4 linked regions of the Homo sapiens genome follow. The protein of the gene in region 1 purifies or fractionates together with the protein of each later gene. This does not show direct contact. Each region holds a gene or a part of one and is shown in the gene's direction. Other genes may lie near its edges.

What was found. The genes of interacting proteins can lie anywhere in the genome.
Region 2: the proteins of HEATR1 (region 1) and RIC3 purify together in Homo sapiens (co-immunoprecipitation; one large-scale study listed by IntAct). This does not show direct contact.
Region 3: the proteins of HEATR1 (region 1) and UXS1 purify together in Homo sapiens (co-immunoprecipitation; one large-scale study listed by IntAct). This does not show direct contact.
Region 4: the proteins of HEATR1 (region 1) and OSTM1 purify together in Homo sapiens (co-immunoprecipitation; one large-scale study listed by IntAct). This does not show direct contact.

What each region holds. Positions count from the first base shown.
Region 1 is NC_000001.11:236,556,017-236,559,516, reverse strand, and holds part of HEATR1 (HEAT repeat-containing protein 1), read left to right. Parts: intron 1-381; coding exon 382-522; intron 523-987; coding exon 988-1,280; intron 1,281-2,171; coding exon 2,172-2,322; intron 2,323-3,258; coding exon 3,259-3,417; intron 3,418-3,500. UniProt on the Homo sapiens protein: Ribosome biogenesis factor; required for recruitment of Myc to nucleoli. Involved in nucleolar processing of pre-18S ribosomal RNA. Required for optimal pre-ribosomal RNA transcription by RNA polymerase I.
Region 2 is NC_000011.10:8,138,026-8,141,525, reverse strand, and holds part of RIC3 (protein RIC-3 isoform a precursor), read left to right. Parts: intron 1-1,332; coding exon 1,333-1,559; intron 1,560-3,178; coding exon 3,179-3,254; intron 3,255-3,500. UniProt on the Homo sapiens protein: Molecular chaperone which facilitates proper subunit assembly and surface trafficking of alpha-7 (CHRNA7) and alpha-8 (CHRNA8) nicotinic acetylcholine receptors.
Region 3 is NC_000002.12:106,187,802-106,191,301, reverse strand, and holds part of UXS1 (UDP-glucuronic acid decarboxylase 1), read left to right. Parts: intron 1-3,500. UniProt on the Homo sapiens protein: Catalyzes the NAD-dependent decarboxylation of UDP-glucuronic acid to UDP-xylose. Necessary for the biosynthesis of the core tetrasaccharide in glycosaminoglycan biosynthesis.
Region 4 is NC_000006.12:108,040,909-108,043,741, reverse strand, and holds the end of OSTM1 (osteopetrosis-associated transmembrane protein 1 precursor), read left to right. Parts: 3' UTR 1-2,333; downstream 2,334-2,833. UniProt on the Homo sapiens protein: Required for osteoclast and melanocyte maturation and function.

The sequences.
Region 1 (3,500 bases):
GAACATGTACCTCGTATATTTTAATAATTAAGTCATATAATATATACTGTTCTACTTTATTCAAGTGGAATAAAATAAAAGTATGAAGTATATTACATACATATCACTGGCCTCGAAGTTAGGATTGCTGATTCAAATCTAGCTCAGTCATTTAGCTGCATGCCTTTGGCACTTCCTCCTGACATCAGGCTTTTGTTTTGTTCGATAATGTGTGGTTGGTAATGCCTACCTGAAAGGTTATTTTAAGAATTAAATAAGAAAATGTGTGTGGAAGTGCCTGGTGCCTGGAGGTGTGCAGTGGACAGCAGTCTGTCTTAATTGAAGTTGGTTTTTTTTTTAATTTGTTTTTCTTTTCATGTTAAATATAAAATTTCTCTTTAGGTCAATGCCTTGCTGCCCACAGAGACATTCATTCCTGTGATCAGAGGGCTGGTGGGCAATCCCCTGCCATCTGTTCGCCGCAAAGCGCTGGACCTTTTGAATAACAAGCTGCAGCAAAATATATCCTGGAAGAAGACAATAGTGAGTGAAGACCCAGGACACACCCATTTACTGTACTTTGCTTTATCAAAGAGCTGCATTTAACTCCCTTCAATTTCTCTAGTGGTACAATTTCAAATTGAAGTATATTATTTTCTGAATATAATACCATGACATGTTTTAAAATGTGACGTTAATTCTAACGGGAATATATGTGTGTTGTAAGAGCTCTTAGAATGGAATTTCAGCCTAGTGGAATTCTTGCTTACTACAGAGCTTACGTGGCCTTAGCCTTAGCATAGTTCTAAGTCCCTTTTACTCCAGATCAGTGGGTGCTTTGTATAAGTGAAACACTGGCTAGAACATGCACATCGCTTAGCATGACTGTGTGACTCAGGACCCCCGAGTCTGATTTCCATTTAGACAATCTCAAGCTGTGACAATGGGAAAATGGACAAACATTTTTTGCAGCTTTAATGATTTGGGGATTCTGGCTGTCCCCTTCAGGTTACCCGTTTCCTAAAACTGGTTCCAGACCTTTTGGCCATTGTGCAGCGTAAGAAAAAGGAAGGGGAAGAAGAACAAGCAATCAACAGACAGACAGCGTTGTATACCTTAAAGCTTTTATGCAAGAATTTTGGTGCAGAAAATCCAGATCCTTTTGTCCCAGTGCTGAACACTGCTGTGAAACTGATTGCTCCAGAGAGAAAGGAGGAGAAGAATGTCCTGGGAAGCGCGCTGCTGTGCATAGCAGAGGTGACCTCCACCCTGGAGGCGCTGGCCATCCCCCAGCTTCCCAGGTATGCGGCCGGAGACTTGGAACAGGAGCTGTTACCGCCTGGCACACATTGAAAAATAACACTTTGGTGACTTTTTTTTTTTTTCCTCTGAGTAGACGTTGCATAAAATTGGAATTTGTTAAAGAATTGATCTTGCAGGGTGTGGTGGCTCACGGCTGTGATCCCACCACTTTGGGAGGCCAAGGCAGGGAGATCGTTTGAGCCCAGGAGTTTGAGGCTGCAGTGAGCTATGACTGCACCACTGCACTGTAGCCTGGGCAACAGAGTGAGACCCTGTCTCTTAAAGAAATAATAATAAAAATAATTAATCTTCAAACAGAAAGATGCAGCCTTCCCGTTTATCTTCAGATGCACTACTTTGCAGTGTTAATCGTCCTCCATTCTTCCTTCCTTTTGTCTAGTATAGTCAAAAAGCAGTGGGTGAAGGTTCTTGGCAGAGGGGCCCACCCAGTTAGGCAAGGCCAAAGCTGCCTTCTGCTGCCAAATTTGGAAGTTAGAAGCTCCTGGCTGTGGTAGTTCCTTACTGTACAGCCAGTATGTTCCTTAACCTGTTAGAGCTTTGCTGTCTATAAAACAGAGACAGTATCTACCTCATAGGATTTCTGTAGGGCAGTGCTTGCAAGGAGTTTTGCATAGTGCCTGACACATAGTAAGTGTTCAGTTAATGAAAGACATTGTTATTTTTTAAATTACTGTTGTGTCCGTACTGTTAGCACTGGGAGATTTCTTGTGCTTAGCCACATAAAATGTATAGACACTGCTTTTTAGGCTATGAAGCAGATAGCGATGTAATAGGCACAGTTTGCTGGTTTTTTTCATAATGCCCTCTACTCCATTCCCTAGCCTCTGTTTCTGCTTCAAGTTCTTCTAAAGCTCTTACTTTGTTTCTAGCCTGATGCCATCGTTGCTGACAACAATGAAGAACACCAGCGAGCTGGTCTCCAGCGAGGTCTACCTGCTCAGTGCCTTGGCTGCTCTGCAGAAGGTTGTGGAGACTCTCCCGCACTTCATCAGCCCCTATCTGGAAGGCATTCTCTCCCAGGTGAGCCACGATAGCCACGACATGCTACGCAGGGTGGCTGGGGAAGGTAAAAGATCACAAATGTAGTGATTTTGTTTTTTCTTTAAGGGTTAGTTTCCGTTTGACAGAAAGGAGTCTTATTTCTGAAGAGATGTGCTTGCTTTTATTAAATGTGTACTTTTTCTCTTCCATCATCCTTGCCACTTAATCTTGAAATTGATATGGGGGTCACTTTTTAGCGAGATGCTTCTCTTCTTTAATTGTGCGGAATGTATTCTGGCTTTTTTTTCTTCTGTGAGATCTTTGGAGTTGGGCTGGTAGAGCCGCCTTTTATTACTTGTGGAAATTGATGGGCCCTGTTTCTACTGTGAGAGGTATAATCCTAAGGCATCTTGCAAAGCAGAATTTTTGTATTGCACGTCAGCGGTTTCCTGTCAACACGCTAGGGGCCAGTGGTATTTATGATTGAAGATGCTCAAGAATGTTGAGACCTGGCTGTTCCATTGTGTTGATCATTTGCCATTTACAAGGTTAGGAGCCTTCATTACCATGGGGCAAATGATTAAACCGCTTCACTTACACCACAGCCAGGGTTTAAAAGTAGCCTTCTCAGAGAAAGGGGCCTGTGCTCTGAGGAGCTTTCTCAGTTTTTTAGCAACTTGACTCTTGCCGTGGTCCCTTGCATTCCTGTCCTCTAAGAAAATCATCTGTCTGGGTGCTGTGTGTGCGTCTGCGTCTACCATCGGCCTTCGTCCCTGATCGCAAGTTGGGCAAGAGGTGTCTGCCCAGTTTTATCCACTGACGTTTAGGGCTGACTTTAAAAGGAATTCTGTGTGTAGTTAAAAAGTGCTAAGCATTTTCCAAACACTAGTACCTCATCATGAAGCCTCTCTGTAAGTGTGTGTTTGTCAGCGAAGATCTGCAGTGGCCCTGATCACTTTTTTTATATTCCTGTAGGTGATTCATCTGGAGAAAATCACTAGTGAAATGGGTTCTGCGTCACAGGCTAATATCCGTCTCACATCTCTTAAAAAGACACTGGCTACCACACTTGCACCCCGAGTCCTGTTGCCCGCCATCAAAAAAACTTACAAGCAGATTGAGAAGAACTGGAAGGTTAGATCTTATTGGGTATTAAGACTTTGGAGAAGGGAGAGGTGGTACTGCAATGTGTAAACTTTGACTTAAAGAAGAAGATT
Region 2 (3,500 bases), on another chromosome or scaffold:
TTATGAATCTGGGTGCTCCTGTATTGGGTGCATATATATTTAGGATAGTTAGCTCCTCTTGTTGAATTGATCCTTTACCATTATGTAATGGCCTTCTTTGTCTCTTTTGATCTTGTTGGTTTAAAGTCTGTTTTATCAGAAACTAGGACTGCAACCCCTGCCTTTTTTTATTTTCCATTTGCTTGGTAGATCTTCCTCCATCCTTTTATTTTGAGCCTATGTGTGTCTCTGCACGTGAGATGGGTTTCCTGAATACAGCACACTGTTGGGTCTTGACTTTATCCAATTTGCCAGTCTGTGTATTTTAATTGGAGCATTTAGTCCATTTACATTTAAAGTTAGTATTGTTATGTGTGAATTTGATCCTGTCATTATGATGTTAGCTGGTGATTTTGCTCGTTAGTTGATGCAGTTTCTTCCTAGTCTCGATGGTCTTTACATTTTGGCATGATTTTGCAGCGGCTGGTACCGGTTGTTCCTTTCCATGTTTAGCGCTTCCTTCAGGAGCTCTTTTAGGGCAGGCCTGGTGGTGACAAAATCTCTCAGCATTTGCTTGTCTGTAAAGTATTTTATTTCTCCTTCACTTATGAAGCTTAGTTTGGCTGGATATGAAATTCTGGGTTGAAAATTCTTTTCTTTAAGAATGTTGAATATTGGCCCCCACTCTCTTCTGGCTTGTAGGGTTTCTGCCGAGAGATCCGCTGTTAGTCTGTATTTTCTTATCTGTATTAGTTAGGGGTGGCTAACTGCTGTAACAAATAGATTCCACAGTGTATAATGACCCTAACACAATAGAAGTTGATTTCTCACTCTTACAGACAGGTCCAGATGACTCTAAGTTAGTGAGGTGGCAGCAGTGGAGGGCTCTGCACTACATAATTATTTAGGAATCAGGTTGATGGAGGCTTTGCTGTTTCTACCCGTGGCTTCCAAGGTCCCCGTGGGTGTTAGCATCCATGCTGCAGAAAAGAAATGATCACGGAGTTGAATAACAAGGGAGATTTTATAGACCAGGCCTTGAGCTAGCACAGTCCTAGTCACATTCCTTGGTTGGAACTCAGTTTATATGGCCACATTTAACTGTATGGGAGTCTGAAAAATGTGGTCCAGCTAAGGACCCAGAGGGAAGAGAAAATGGGTTTGGTGAACAGCTAGAGATGATCACATCATATTTAGGATATGTGTGATACCTCTGTATCCTTTTAATTAAGTTGCCATTTTTTTCTTCTACTTGTTTGTGTTGGCCTCTTTTATACCTTAATGATTTGGTGTTTTCATGATAGCCATCTTTAAAATAGTAGAAGAGATAAAAAGTGATTATTATTTTCTCAGGAAAATTGGGCCGATTTCCACCTATGATGCATCATCACCAGGCACCCTCAGATGGCCAGACTCCTGGGGCTCGTTTCCAGAGGTCTCACCTTGCCGAGGCATTTGCAAAGGCCAAAGGATCAGGTGGAGGTGCTGGAGGAGGAGGTAGTGGAAGAGGTCTGATGGGGCAGATTATTCCAATCTACGGTTTTGGGATTTTTTTATATATACTGTACATTCTATTTAAGGTAAGTAGAATCATCCTAATCATATTACATCAATGAAAATCTAATATGGCAATAAAAATCATTGTCTACATTAAAACTTCTTATAGTTCATAAAATTATTTCAAATCCATCATCTCTTTAAATCCTGCCTCCTCTTCATGAGGTACTTAGGATAGCCATTATTTCAGTTTCACATAAGAAATGTTTACTCAATGTTTAAGTGTTTTGCCCCAAAATTCACAACTAACAAGGCAGAACTAGGACTTGAACATGGATCTTTTGGTTCTTAATCCAGTGAGTGATACAATTCAATGCACTCCCCTGCCAAAAAAAAAAAAAAAAAAAAAAAAATTAACATCTTTACAGGCCGAAAAGGAATAAAGATTTTCTAAGAAGAGCTTTTATTATTGGGATTGGCACAGTGATTTCCAAATAGCCATTGTAAGGCCAAATAATGACACCACTTTATCCTGCTTGTTTCTCCACAGGAATTTGAGATGCTGTTTTTAATATTATCTCCAATAATTCTCCTGAGACAGAACTGTCCCTCCTGAAATTAAGCCTGATATTTCCTAGCTCTGGGGAGACATGGGTGTAGGTTCTTTAAAGCAGACCCCCAGTTGAGTTCCACCTCCAGGCAGGCCTTTGCAGGCCCCTGGCCCCTGTACTGTGAATTAGAGGCAGAAGACTCACTTTGCCCTCCTGTCTAGAGTAAGCTTAAATAAGATGAGTTCTTTCTCGCCCAGGAATTCTGCAGGCAGTCTGAGTTGAGTCTGTAAGAATGCCCATAGGGTGCCACACATCCCTTTTAGATGAGCATGAGCAAGGAAGATGACCTGTAGGGAGATTTTTTTTCCCTTGTGTTAGAAATGCTTGTTCTCTGGTGCCATAAAGAAGCAGCACTTGGACGTACATTTAATTTCCTCAGCAAGGCCATTTTTACTTTCTGCAGAAAGGGTACACTCACCAGCGGTTTTGCCGTGAGAGTACACCGAACAAAGGAGACAGGGTCATTTATAACCTGACGCATCCACCTTACTGCTGTGTCCGGTTTCCATTGGCTGGAACGGGACCTCACATTCTGTATTTGTGCTGATTGGCTAGCGACTTAGAACTTTTTAAAAGAGGCAAAGGCAGAGGAGAACAAAGGAAGGAGGAACTAACTTGTGGAATGCTGAGAAAGGTAAAAACACCTTCATATAAGGAAGAGGAACAGGCTATGACCTCATGCTTGCTTTGACAAGTATAAGCATGCCAGGGCAAATATTTAGGCTAAACTGTGGGAGCTAAGAACAGTTGATTTCTTTATTATGGCTAGCAGATATCTAAGCATGTTAGCACAGGTTCTTGAATAAATTTTGCTTCTAAGAGAAGTTACTATTCCTAATTATATGGGGAGTAAAGTCTCTTTGAAGAGGAATCTCTACTTTACTTTTTACACTTGTGCTTTGATAATTTTTTACTTGGAAACCTCATCTTTTGGCGTTTTTTTTTTTGAGCTATTTCTCTAGTGTTGCTATTTGATTTAATTTCTGACCTTCATTTTTGTTTCCCAACCTTTTTTTTTTGTTTGATATGAGGGGTTCCGTGACTGAGGTTCTGAGCTGCTGTTGATGTGCTATACCTCCTTCAATTCTCAGCTCTCAAAGGGGAAAACAACTGCAGAGGATGGGAAATGCTATACTGCCATGCCTGGAAACACCCACAGGAAAATTAGTAAGTGCCCCTTCTCAGTATATTCACAGGTATTATTGAGTCAAACAGTTTTATAGCCACAGGGACAGTCTGTGGGTATGTCTTAAAAGCATTTCTCAAAAGTTGCTCCAAATTAATCTGATGCCATTTTTGCCTTAGTTCTGGGAATTCTCAAAAGTTTTTATATTGATGTACTACAAAAAGTACAAAACCACCAGTTCACTTTTTAATATATTAGCAAATTAATATTTCACGTTTGGAATGACT
Region 3 (3,500 bases), on another chromosome or scaffold:
TTCCCAATTATATACACCCTCACTGTTAGCCAGCCTCCGTTGCAGAAATGCCCTCCCTGTTTCGGGAACAGAACTCAAGTTCTGTTAGCCTTTCTCCTTCTCCTCCTTACATCTTTCCCAAAGTCTTTGTTACCTACTCTGGCCCTGAGTCTCCTCCTTGATACCACATAACTCTTCTTCATGTCTTAGGGTTGACCACCTGCTAACTTGCATTGTACTTGAGTTCTTTCCCATTCATATGTTGGCTTTTTTTTCTCAATGAAATCCCGATTCTGAGGACAGGGATTGTGTCTTATGTGTTTCAGCCCTTGAAACATTTATAGCAGTGCTAATGGCTCATTGAAAGAACTCAGTTTCTGCCCTTTGTGCTGAATCAAAAATCAGGCCAACCTACTAGGTAGCTCCTGGGCAGACTGCTTGAATTACCTTTAACGTATTTTTTTTTAACATGCATATAGTGTAAAAAGTTAAATAGCTTCTGCAGGGCCAAACAGTATCCCCTGCCACCATTTCCCTCTCCCCAGAAGCAGGCACTTCATTTCTTTTTTTTTTTTTTTTGATACAGAGTTTCGCTTTTGTTGCCCAGGCTGGAGTGCAGTGGCGTGATTTCGGCTCACTGCAACCTTGGCCTCTTGGGTTCAAGCGATTCTCCTGCCTCAGCCTCCTGAGTAGCTGGGATTACAGGCATGCGCCACCACGCCCGGCTAATTTTGTATTTTTAGTAGAGACGGTTTCTCCATGTTGGTCAGGCTGGTCTCAAACTCCTGACCTCAGGTGATCTGCCTACCTCAGCCTCCCAAAGTGCTAGGATTGCAGGCGTGAGCCACCGCACCCAACCCCTAGGCATTTCACTTCTTTTAGTTGATTATTTTGGTATTTATCATTGTGCCATTGAATCACCTGGCTTCCTGATTTTTCAGTTGTAGATATTACCTAGTGACTTTGTTCTTTGGGAGATGATTTTTTTCTTCTCTTTGCCCCTGTACATGCTCTCCACCCTCCTATATAGATGTGGTATAATCTCACGGAGCTCATCATGCAGTGTTTACAAGCATGACTATGTAAATGCTGTTCCTAGTGAGTCATGTTGTAGGTTACTTTTTGTTTTCTCCAGCGAATAATTGGCTGGTGTTCTAATTTGCTTGCTTTCTATGTAGTATGACAGATCCAACTCCAAACTCTTTGCCAGTTGTCTGTCGCGTCTTCCCCCATGATGTTCATGAGCATCAGGATGCCCCTTGGTCAGCACCCCTTCCTGAAGAAGGGCCCCGGGGCCTTCTACTGCAACTTGTGGATACATCTGAGGGTCAGCTGCCAGCCTCACCACCTGCACCCACATCAGCCTGGACCTACCCACTGCAGGACTTCTGTTTCCTGACTTCCTCTTCCTGACTCCCTCTTGTTTCACTCCCTGGTTTGGATGTGATGGGAAGTGAATTCTGAGACTTTACCCATAAGTATATTTTCTGCCTTCATGTCTGATAGATTGATAGTGTAGAATTATAGAAAAAAAGTTCCTTTAGAATTTTTGAAGCATTGGTCCAATCCTTTTTGGCCTCCAGTATTGTTGAAGAATTTCAAGCCAGTCCTTCTCTTTCTGAAGATTGTAGCATCTTCCTTTCGGGTCTAGTTGTCAGTGCTCGCCACACATGTCCAGCCCCCTGTCCCCCAGGCTCTTGGTAGGATTGCCCTCCCTTCCTCACTCCCTGAGCTTGATGGCCTCACATGGTTGTTGTGCCAGTGGCCTGCCCAGGAGCTGAGCGGAAGTGCTACTTCCACTTCTGGGCCTGCACTTCGCTGCGAGTGTAAGTTGCTGCCAGAGTTTTCCTTCCCTCTAGTTAGGTTCTGAACTCAGCTTGACAATGATGATACTCAGCTTGCAGAACCCCCTCCCACCCATGCTATGACCCTGTTCGATTGAAATAAACTTGAAGAATAAATCTTGGTTGTTGTAGGCCTCTGAGGGCTTTTGGGCTGCTCATTGCTGTAGTTTAACAATGCCTGCCCTGACTGATACATCCGTGGTGTTCCAAGATCCACAGTGCTAGGCCTTGGTGTATTTTATCCAGCATGTTGGGCATTTTTTGTGCCCTGGCAATCCAGAAACACTTATTCTTCAGTTATGGGAATTTTCTTGAATTATTCTTTGGTGATTTTCTCCCCTCCCATTTTCTATTTCATCTCTTTCTGGGACTACTACTATTCTGATATAGGATTGCTGGACCAATCCTCTTATTTCCTATTTTCTACCATTTTAAGGTTGTTGCACTTTTGGGACGTCTCCTCATTTTTGTATTTAGACTCTTCTAGTGATTTTTTTACATTTTATTTTTGCCATACTTTTTCATGTATAAGAGTTCTTTTTTGTTCTGTGAACTTTTTTAAAAAACTAAAACATGGTCTTCATTTCATGGTATATTCTCTGGATTTTTAAAAAATTTGTTTTCTTTTCTCTTTACTGAAGGATCTCTTTCCTCTAGGCTGCCTTCCCGTTTCTGTGTGAGGCTCTCCTCAGATGGCCTGCCCATGTTTAAGAGTGGGGGACTCTGTAGGGATGGGCACTGCCTTCTGTGAGCTGAACCTTTCCTTGTTGGGGCCTTCTGACCTTAGTGCTGCGGGTTGGTCCTCCCGGGCTATTGTCACAAGACTCTCCCTGGTCCCTGCAGGAAGGGGAGGCTTGGCTGCCTGCATCCTGGAGCCCAGTGAGCGAGGGCTGTAGCCTAATCAGTAACCTGATTGTCCCAGGGGGATCTGGGCTCCTCTGTCAGAGACCCTGATTCCACCCTCTCCAGAGATGGAGCCACCTGTCTTCTGCCAGGGTGGGACAGGAGCTGGAACTTGTCCTGCTTCTTAGATGTCTTTGAAAATCAGACTTCCTGTCTCTGCTGCCTCCACACCCATTGCAGATGCTCCAGGCCTGGCCCAGTTCTTGACCCTAAGTATAAATGGGCCATTCCACTGCCCGCCCACGTCCGTGCCCTCTCCATGTCCCCATATTCACCTATCTTCTTTTTCCTATCCAGTAGCATTTTGGTGCCTGTTCTCCCTTCCCCTTCTCCCTGTCCACGTGGATTGATTCCTTAAACAAGAACAAAAAAGAAGTCAGGGAGGAGGGATATGGAGAGAGGGGCAGGGAGGAAAATAGATTGCCTATATTCAAAAAAAGAAAAGAAATCAAAGACAAAAGACATTTTCTGATGTTTTAGTCGGGTTTAGGAGCCATTATCTTTTCACCTTTAGCCTTTGAAAGTTAGAGTTAAGGCTGGTCGCGGTGGCTCATGCCTGTAATCCCAGCATTTTGGGAGGCCAAGGCAGGTGGATCACCTGAGATCGGGAGTTTGAGACCAGCCTGGCCAACATGGTGAAACCCCGTCTCTAGTAAAAATACAAAAAATTAGCTGGGCATGGTGGCGGGCGCCTGTAATCCCAGCAACTCAGGAGGCTGAGGCAGGAGAATCTCGTGAACCCGGAGGCGGAAATTGCAGTGGGCCAAGATCGTG
Region 4 (2,833 bases), on another chromosome or scaffold:
ATTGTTTCTAAATTATTTCAATCAGATGAAAGTGATACGATTGAAATGAAATCACATAGTTCGTGCTCAGAAATTCTATTTTGGTATGTTTGTATTAGCCTTTAGAAAAAACACTCCGTTTCAGAATTGTTCACAGTTTTATTTCTTAGGTTTTTAGAGTTCAGGATTTCATTTATTAATTTCTTCTTGCTTTTTTGGTGGAAATAGGCTTTGTTGTAAACATTAAGAATATAAAATCTCCTCTATATAGAAACAAGAATTTTGTTAAAAAGAGAATTTGAATCCCTTCCTATACTATAAAATGCTCTATAGGGAGACAAAGTGTTTCTTTTTTCTTTTATGTTTACTGTTTATGTGGAGTGAAATATAAGGCTCTTGGATGTATAACATACTCAAAAGCTGTTACACTTTCTCTGATCTGCTGTGATCCACTGAAAATGTGCTGGGGTTTGTTCTGCTGTCACTGTTTATGCTGCTGGAACTTAGCACTGTCTTGATTTGAAGCATATGATTGAGAGCCATTTGAAGCAATCTTCATTAATGCAGATAAAACAAGTTTACATGTGCAGAGTTAGAAAATGACATGTTCAATTCTGTAAGTGGTGACTTTTTGAGCACCTTTCAGTATTATGTATTTGTAAAAACCATTGTTTTTGGATATAAAGCTAATAAGCACTTTAAAAAGGAAAAGGCAGCCTTTACTATTTTTTCTGGTTGAGTCATTGCTCTTTAGACCTAGCATCAGCAATAGATTTCAAAGATAAGTATTAAGCGCTACCCTAAAGTGTGTAAGTTTTTCATTTTGTCATATTGAAAAATGATTTGCATAGTACTGAATGTTGACACACAGCTTATATGTATTTACAAGAATATCTTTAAGTGTTTTTTTGACACATTAAAATAAAGGAAATAAGGAAATTGTAAGCTTTATTTGGATTTTTAAATACATTTTTAAAATTTCAGATGTAATTTAACATCACATTTGTTTTTCAGGTATTGAGTTTAGATGCCTACTTTTATGAGTACCATCAGCTGGACACAGTGTCTCATACCTGTATTTGCAGCACTTTGGGAGGCTGAAGCAGATCGCTGGAGCTTATGAGTTCGAGACCAGCCTGGACAACATAGTGAAACACTGTCTCTGCAAAAAATACAAAAATTAGCTGGGTATGGTGGTAAGTGCCTGTAGTCCTAGCTACTTGGGAGGCTGAGATGGGAGGATGTCTTGAGCCCGGGAGGTGGAGGTTGCAATGAGCCAAGATTGTACCACTGCATTCCAACCTGGGCGACAGAGCCAGACCTTGTCTCAAAAAAAAAAAAAAAAAAAGAAAAAAGAAAGTACTGTCTGTCTTAAATTTTGCTGCAAATAAAAATGTACTTTGGATTATTTATTGTTGAACTTGAGAGATAGAAATAACATCAGATATATTTTTTCTTTTTTTTTTATAATTAATTTTTTTTTTTTTTTTTTTTGTAGAGACAGTGTCTCACTATGTTGCCCAAGCTGGTCTTGAACTCCTGAGTTCAAGAGATCCTCCTGCCTTAGCCTCCCAAAGTGCTGGGATTACAAGCATAAGCACCACACCTGGCTGAACATCAGATATTTTAAAGTGTAGCCCAGAGTCTAGTTGGTAAATGTTACTTATATTGGGACTAGTATTTTCTAATGTTTCTGGGATATGCTCCCTATAAAATGAAATGTTTTCCTGGAACAATGCTAATTAGGATTGCATTCCTGGCCAAAGACATGACATCAAATAAGTAATAGACATCACCAGCAATGAATTTTGAAAAGCAAAAAATACTATTAACCTATATAACCATTTAAAATTTAAAAAATTATGTTCCAAGTACCTCTATTTTCTGAGCTAGAAGAAACCTTAGAGGCCATCTGATGATAGATTCCCAGAGCTGGATGGATCCCTAGGGACTACCTAATCTGACTTTCTGTCCACTGCATGGATTCTTCTAAAAAGTATGTCACTTATTTCCCTACCTTATTAAGACTAAATAAGTGGAACATCATAGAGCTCTTTATTTATAACAGTCATTCTTTGATAGTCAACTCTTAAATGGAGACTTGAGATGCTTAAATATTGTACTACTGTGCTTATCTTGTAAAGATTTCATAAAATGATAGTATTGGTTATTTTAAAAAGGCTTTGGCTTATGCTGAATTATACATGTAGCACCAAAATGTTACAACTCTACTAAATTTCCTTGTTCTAAACTATTATATTAGCTATAATAAATATTAGTCATACATGTAACATGTTTAATGACAAATAACTTTCTTTATCTCCTTGGAATTAAAGAGGGCTTTTAAAAGATAATTTGACTGATCCATGCTTCTTACAGTGTGGAGCTTTGCAATGATGATTTTTTAAATATGTTTTTCTTGTGATAAACAGGTATTTTTTAAAATCTGCTGGGTGTGGTGACTGGTACCTGTAATCCCAGCACTTTGGGAGGCTGAAGCGGGAGGATCACTTGAGCCCGTGAGTTTGACACCAGCCTGGGCAATATAGTGAGACCTTGTCTCTACAAGAAATTAAAAAACTAGCTGAGCATCATGGTGTGTACCTGTAGTCCCAGCTACTCAGGAGGCTGAGGTGGGAGGATCGCTTGAGTCTAGGAGGCAGAGGTTGCAGTGAGCCAAGATTGTGCCACTGTACTCCAGCCTGAGTGACAGAACAAGACCCTGTCTCAAAAAAAAAAAAAAAAAATCCATCTCAGTACCCCAATGCAATCAAAAGATTTCAGAGCTTTAAAATGAATGATGCTGGGTGCAGTGACTCCTGCCTGTAATCCCAACACTTTGGGAGGCTGAGGC